Linked DNA regions of Homo sapiens. The protein of the gene in region 2 interacts with the protein of the main gene of each other region in a biochemical or structural test. Each region holds a gene or a part of one and is shown on either strand. Other genes may lie near its edges. The genes, in order: SMC5 and SLF2.

Evidence for each region.
Region 1: the proteins of SLF2 (region 2) and SMC5 form a complex in vitro, tested with the Homo sapiens proteins (one study listed by BioGRID).

What each region holds. Positions count from the first base shown.
Region 1 is NC_000009.12:70,317,774-70,321,701, reverse strand, and holds part of SMC5 (structural maintenance of chromosomes protein 5), read right to left. Parts: intron 3,189-3,928; coding exon 3,015-3,188; intron 2,909-3,014; coding exon 2,739-2,908; intron 1-2,738. UniProt on the Homo sapiens protein: Core component of the SMC5-SMC6 complex, a complex involved in repair of DNA double-strand breaks by homologous recombination.
Region 2 is NC_000010.11:100,915,671-100,919,598, reverse strand, and holds part of SLF2 (SMC5-SMC6 complex localization factor protein 2), read right to left. Parts: intron 3,601-3,928; coding exon 3,557-3,600; intron 3,030-3,556; coding exon 2,299-3,029; intron 1,216-2,298; coding exon 1,158-1,215; intron 1-1,157. UniProt on the Homo sapiens protein: Plays a role in the DNA damage response (DDR) pathway by regulating postreplication repair of UV-damaged DNA and genomic stability maintenance.

The DNA.
Region 1 (3,928 bases), on a different chromosome or scaffold from region 2:
TCTGTTTAGAAAAGACTTTTGGCTGGGTGTGGTGGCTCATGCCTGTAATCCTAGCACTTTGGGAGGCTGAGGCGGGAGGACTGATTGAGGTCTGGTGTTCGAGACCAGCCCCAGCAACATAGCAAGACCCCATCTCTACAAAAAAGCTGGGCATAGTGGTGCACACCTGTGGTCCCAGCCACTCAGGAGGCTGAGGCGTGAGGATTGCTTGAGCCCAAGAGTTCAAAGCTGTAGTGAGCTGTGAGCATGCCACTGCACTCCAGCCTGGGTAACAGAGCAAGACCCCGTCTCAAAAAAAAAAAAAAAAGACATTTGACAATATTATATTTACATTTTGTACAGAATTCTGTGGAATATATGACCCATTAAGGCCAAGCAGACATAATTCTAATTGTCACAAGGAAGACTGCAACTAAATGAGTGAGATAAACCCTCAGGTGCCCAATCTATTCTGTGAAACTCAATATAACCTCCTCCTTCCCTATTACTCTCTTTCAGAACTAGAGAAAAAACAGCCTAGTTTGACAATTTTTCTGCCTTCCCCTCTCCTCTCCTACCATTCAGAACTCAAGGGACATATTGTTTTGGATAATCATGTAGGGCAGTGGTTCTCAAAGTCCGGTCTACAGACTCCTGGGGATACCTGAAACTATTTCAGGAGTCTGTGAGTTAAAAACTATTTTCATGGTGGTAACAGGACATCATTTGCCTTTCTCACCATGCTGTCATTTGCACTGACGGTGTAAAAGCAATGGAAAGTAAAAATGCTAGTGCTTTAGAATAAATCAAGGTAGTGTACCAAAACTAGTGCACCAAAGTATACTAGTTCTTAGATTCTTCACTGCCATGCAATTGAAATTTTTAAAAATGCCAAATTCCCTTAAGAATATCCTTGATGAAGCAGTAAAATTCATAAATTTTATTAAACCTCAAAATCTTAAGTATATATATTTTTAATATTCAATGTCATGACATAGGAAGTACATAATATAGTTGTCCCCCAGTATCCATCAGACATTGGTTGCAGGACTCCCTAAGGATTCCAAAATCCACAGATGCTTAAGTCCCTTATATAAAATGATGTAGTATTTGCATATGGCCTATGAACATCCTCCCATATATTTTATATTATCTCTAGATTAGTTATAATACCTAATACAACATAAATGCTATGTAAATAGTTGTTATATTGTATTGCTTAAGGAATAATGACAAGAAAAAAGTCTGTATGTGTTCCATACAGACATAACCATCCATTTTTGTCCCCCTGAATATTTTTCTTTCTTCCCTCCTCCCTGCCCTGCCTAAAGAGATGAGGTCTTGCCATGTTGCCCAGGCTGGTCTCAAACTCCTGGACTCAAGTGATCCTTCCGCCTTGGCCTCACAAAGTGTTGGGGTTACAAGTATGAGACACTGCACCTGGCCTCTTGAATATTTTTGATCTGTGGTTGGTTGAATCCATGGATGTGCAACCCACGAATATGGAGGGCAGGCTGTGCTTATTAAATATTTGTAGTATATTCAAAAGTATAAATGTTGTTTCAAGGAAAAGCACTTGTGTGACTAAGTTTGGAGTTATACTAGACATTTTTTTCATGGAATACCATTTTTATTTAAAAAAATGACAAACTATAATTATCTGGACTTGGCTATTTGGTCATTTTTCTTTTTCCAAACAGGAATAAAGTGAGCTTGTCATTTCAAGGAAAATAACTGACAATATTTGTTGCCAATGATAAAGTTCAAACTTTCAAATGAAAATTTGAATTTTAGAAAATCTGTATCCACTGGCAAGCTTGACAGCTTCCCAATTCTTAACAGCTTTTCTGATGGAATCAGTGATCAATGTGATCTTTTAAAAATATTACATAATAAAATATGTCAACGTTTGAAATATCTATGTGACTTGATGAACCAGTATTCTCCCAATGACCAATGCATGCTATAACTAAATCATTTACAAGTAAAAGCGCCATCTAAAGTGCAATGGATTTTAATGTAACAGAGTACACAAGTTCACTGATATGGTTTCAGATTCCACACTGCAATTAAACTTTAATAAACTACACTTTGGCAAATTTTGATGTAGTATTAAAGAATAATATCCACAATTACCTGAAAAGTCTAAAATACTCCTCCTTTTCCAACTGCATATTTATGGGAAGCCAGATTTCCTTCATATACTTCAACTCAAACATCTCACTACAAACTCAATATACAGAATTAAGTAGGGAAAAACCTACTGACTTCAACTAAAGAAATCTGCAAAAATGTAAAACGCCACTCTTCTCACTAAATGTATTTTGTCTGGAAAACAGCTATTTTTAATACATTTTTATGTTAACACATAATGGGTTTATTTTTAAAATGAATTACTGCCCCATCTCCACCTAAAAAAAAATAAATTAATGAATATTTTAAACATTCTCAGTTTTAATTTCTAATATGGTAAATATCAATAAATACAATCCATGTAAACAAAACCTCTTCAAGGTCCTCATTAATTTTTAAGCATATAAAGGAGTCCAGAGACTGGAAGAACAGAAGAACTTGCAACACTCAAGATTCATCTCCTTTTGCCCTATGGAATAAAATTGTGTTTTATGCAGTAAGATTAAAGATTAAAGAGAAATTACTACAAAGCGTGCTTGTGGAAATGCTGTTGTTATTACAGTGTATAATTAATATTCTCCCATACAGTAATTTGTGCTCTCCCCCCTGAATAGGCTAAAAGATACCTTCCTAGTTTGGAACTGATTTTTTGTTCCAGTTGTCTTTTCTTGGTTTTTCTCTCAAGAAGCTCCTTCTTCTTTTGTCTAAGTTCATTGTCTTTGTGCTCCAGATGTTTGCTTGTTTCACGTAAGGCAATCAACCCTGAATCCACTGCTTGCAATTTTCTATGAATTTCCTATAAAATATTTAAAAATTGTTAACATATTTAAAAAACTGTTCCAGTGAAACTATTAGAAATCCAGTTAATATTCTTTTCTAACATTCAGATCAAATTAACCAACCTTTAGCTGTTCTTCTAAGTGTCTTCTCTGCTCTAGGTCCACAGTGACAGTGAGAAACTGCGCTACTTTTAGAGATGTGTTACTAGAAATAACTTTGTTTGAATAAAAAGAAGTTTTCACCACATACTTTTCTTCTGCTGTATAAATCTGTTTTAATCGGGTTTCTTGTATTACCTATAACGTAAAACAACTATTAGTGCACATCTAATATAAATTATATGTTTTAAAGTACTAAATTAGAAATACAGACCAAGTGAATTTTGGAAGATCAAAATATACGAGATATACATTTTTTTTTTTTAGACAGGGTCTCACTCTGTCACCCAGGCTGGAATGCAGTGGCACGAACTCAGCTTACTCCAGCCTCAACCCCCCAGGCTCAAGTGATCCTTCCACTTCAGCCTCCTGAGTAGATGGGACTACAGGCATGTGCCACCACGCCTGGTTAATTAAAAAAAATTTTTGTAGAGATGGAGTTTTTCCATGCTTCCTATGGGGGCGCTGGTCTTGAATTCCTGCCTCTGAGATTCTCCCGCCTGGGTCTTCCAAAGTGCTGGGATTACAGATGTGAGCCACTGCATCTAGCAATTTTTTTTTTAACCTATCCAACAAAATTTCAAAAAAGGCGGCCCATACAACTAGCAAAGTCAGCTATACTTCTACGCTACTATACAACTCTCCCAAGTAGTTTTGGAGCTTTGTTACATCTAAAGAAGAGATAGCAGGAGAGAAGAGTGCTCAGCACATTGAACTGTTATCTTGGGTAAGTCATTTACTCTCCCCTCCTCTCAGTTATACTGTTCAAAGATACATAATCTTATATTTAGTTCCTGTATATTTGGGAAGAATAATCAAATGAAACATTTTTCATAGATTTCAAAGCCTTTTCTTATTTTTAAAGTTTTTTAGAACTT
Region 2 (3,928 bases):
TGTTTGCCTTTTTAATCTTCTATTTTCTAGTTTTAAAAAAAGATAAAATGTACTGAATTAACAGATTTGTTATTTTATATTTTTTTCAATCAATAAATGCTAAAAGTACAAACTAATGTCATGTAGATATCCTTGAAATTTAATATTAAAAAGGGATCCTTGGATTTGAAATATTAGAGAACACTGCTTTTTATCATGGTAACAGTCTCAACCCTATACAAAGCATCTTCAACATAATACCAACAACTCAGTCTACAATTCCAAGATAATAAGATTATGTTTCCTGGGGGCCCGGTGCAGTGGCTCATGCCTGTAATCCCAGCACTTTGGGAGGCCGAGGTGGGCAGATCACGAGGTCAGGAGATCGAGACCATCCTGGCTAACGTGGTGAAACCCCGTCTCCACTAAAAATACAAAAAATTAGTCGGGCATGGTGGTGGGCGCCTGTAGTCCCAGATATTTGGGAGGCTGAGGCAGGAGAATGGTGTGAACCCGGGAGGCGGAGCTTGCAATGAGCCAAATTACACCACTGCACTCCAGCCTGGGCGACAGAGCGAGACTCTGTCTCAAAAAAAAAAAAAAAAAAAAAAAAAAAAAGATTATGTTTCCTGATGTAGCCAAGGATTCAGAAGGAAACACTGAATACCAGTATGAGAAACATACTGTTAGGAACTCCTGAAGAGGGCAGAGATTCAAGACAGATTACAAATTATATGCACTAGGTCAGGTGTGGTGGCTCATGAGCTCAGGAGTTTGAGACCAGCCTGGGCAACGTGGCGAAACCTCGTCTCTACAAAAATACAAGAAATTAACCAGGCATAGTTGCCCACATCTGTAGTCCCAGCTACTCAGGAAGCTGAGGTGGGAGAATCATTCGAGGCCAGGAGGTCAAGGCTTGCAGTTGAGTCGTGATCATGCCACTGCATCCCAGCCTGGGTGACAGAGTAAGACCCTGTCTCAAAAACAAACCCAAATTATAAGTACTAGATTCAGGGACTAGTCTTTTTTAATATGATCTTACCAAACTCTTAATTAATATGAGACACTTAATTCATCCCCAAGAAGGGAACTGCATATTTAAACAAATTTATTTTAAAAAGCAGTGCCATTAAAATGGAAATTTATTTAGAAATCCATAAATTTAATTTTGATTCTACCTGAAGTAGGTTCCCATGAATCAGAAGAGGATCTTTTTCTTGAGAGATGTCCATTTTCCTATGAGCACAATGAGATAAAATTAATTAAGTGTTGGGGACAGTAAAGAATGTGAAGGCATTCTTCCTAACATTTAAACACAGATTTCTAGATTGAATAAGGCAAGCACCCATATTTGGAGGTAAATCCTAATGTCTATAATAAAATATTTAAAGATCTTAAGGTTTTTGTCATAAAAATTAAGGGCATTTGTATCATAAACATGTAAAAATATCATAAAAATGAAGTCAGTTTTCAAAATGCTGATTTACGTTTATATCAATAATTCAAGAATATTATATTAGAACACTGTATTTTTGAGACAAGGTCTCGCTCTGTCACCCAGGCTGGAGTGCAATGGTGTGATCAAACTCACTGCAACCTTGATCTCCTGGGCTCAAGCGAGCCTCCCACCTTAGCCTCCTAAGTAGCTAGGAGAACAGGCACATGCCACCATGACTGGTTATTTATTTATTTATTTATTTGTAGTAGAGCCAAGGTCTCGATATGTGGCTCTGGCTGGTCTCAAACTCCTGAGCTCAAGCAATCCTTCCACCTAGGCCTCCCAAAGTACAGGAAGCAGGAGGATCGCTTGAGGCCAGGGGTTCAAGGCCAGCCTGGGCAGTATAGGGAGACCTGTCTCTACAAAAAAATACAAAAATTAGTCAAATATGGTGGCAGGTACCTGGAGTCTCGACTACTTGGGAAGCTGAGGTGAGAGCATCATTTGAGCCCAGGAGTTTGAGACTGCAATGAGACATGATCACGCCATAGCACTCCAGCATGAGCAACAGAGCAAGACTGTCTACACATAAATAAGTAAGACTATACTTGCCTTAAAAAAAAAGAATGCTTACTTTTCTGACTAAAAAAGATCTTTGTTCCCAGTCTGAAAAAACTAAGGATAAGAAACACTGCTTTACTGAGTTCGATGAAGGGCAACTGGAGGAAATGTAATGAAACCAGCTTCTACACAAACTGTGCATAAGTATTTCCTTCAGGAAAGACGTCAATGTGATGTAACAACTCTTAAATATTTTTAAATTTAGTATTCTAAATATGACATAGCAGTAGCAATGCTAATTCAATAATTCTTACACATACCACATTTGACAGATTATTTTTTCCAGGTATGATGTCATTCTGTTTCCTTTGTTCCTGCCTTGGTTTATATTTTCTTTCTATACTAGATTTTAAGGAAAGACTGCTTGCTTCTGAGAAAGAATTCTCGGAGTTGATTCTCTGCTCCATTTGCTCCTTTCTCAACCTCTTTAGTTCTCGTTCTCTGCAGTAAGAAGCTAGTGACAACTGGAATTTAGCTCCCAGTGGGCTTTCTTCCGGGTGGTGCCTGGACAGGCTGCTCCTGCTGCTAAGGCTTCTGGAGCTGTTATTGAAGATGTCAGCTTCTGCCACTGTGGTCTGCTTTTTGGAGTCTGCATTGGTTTTGCCTCGATCTCTATCATTCTTCTCATTATTTTCATGAATGAATAGTGACTTCCTTCTCTCTGGGGATCGATGTTTTTTCTTTAGTGACTTCATCTCCTTTGGCAAGTGATATGAAGAAGGAACATAGATATTTGTTCCTTTGGCTAAATATTTGGAGGCTAGTGACAGACAAGGCCGACGTGACTCATGTATACCATGATCTTCATGGTGCTCTTTAACACCTTTCATGAAAGCTTCTATAATAGGGCTCTTTTCTGGTGGCACCCTTTTGGGTTTAGATTCTTTTGGTGAGGATAGTTTCCTTTCAAACTGCTCTGTCCCAGTGATAGACAATCTACTTCCTCCATATTTGATGTTTGATTTTTGTGGTGAATCCAACATGTGTCTGTCTAAATAGCCAATTAAAACACATACAAATTGCATGTTAGTAAAATATTTAATATTTATCTAAATTATTAATGTTTAAAATATAAATTAAACTATACTAATGTTACCACAAAAATTTTCAAACCAACAACTTGGATAATGATACACACTTTATTGGGGGGTATAGGAGAAATTAAGAGATGATTTATTTGTTAAAAGCCTTAGTTTCATAAAGCTCTCTTTTGGTACATCATATAACCTCCCTATGGCTCTATAAATTACTGTATTAGAGAATCAAAATAGTATGTATTATGAACATTAAATTTTTTACTAGAATAATATTTTAAATGTAAGAAAACATAACAGCAAAAAGACTTTCATATTTAGAACTTCAGTTTATCCTTGTAAAACAAAATACTGCATCTTCATTTTATTTTCAATTTTGAACACTACGTTTACTAAAACAGTTTAGAGTAGGTTTTAAAGTTGAATCTGTCTCTCTCCTCACCCCCAAAATAGCCCACAAAAAATGCATCAACAGTGTACATACCTTGTTTTGAAGCTGGTTTGAAGAAATCTATAATTGACTGCTTCCTGAAAATAAAAGCATAATATGGCATCATATAAGCAAATATTAAAACCTTCATAACTCAGATTAAATGGAGAAAGATTTATAAAATAAAGGCTGGATTTCACTATTTGGTTTAATAAAGTTCTGACAATGGTAACAATGCTTTGCTAAACTGTTCATTAAAAAAACAGAAAATATAACGTATCACTTCCTATAGGAGTTCATTTATAAAAATACAACTGAGGTTTATATTATTTATAGTACTTAAATAGGTCAGACTGGTGTGTAGACCCAAGGAATTAGTACAGAGTGCTTCTTAAGACTGAAATGTTCACGGCTACATGGTAGAAT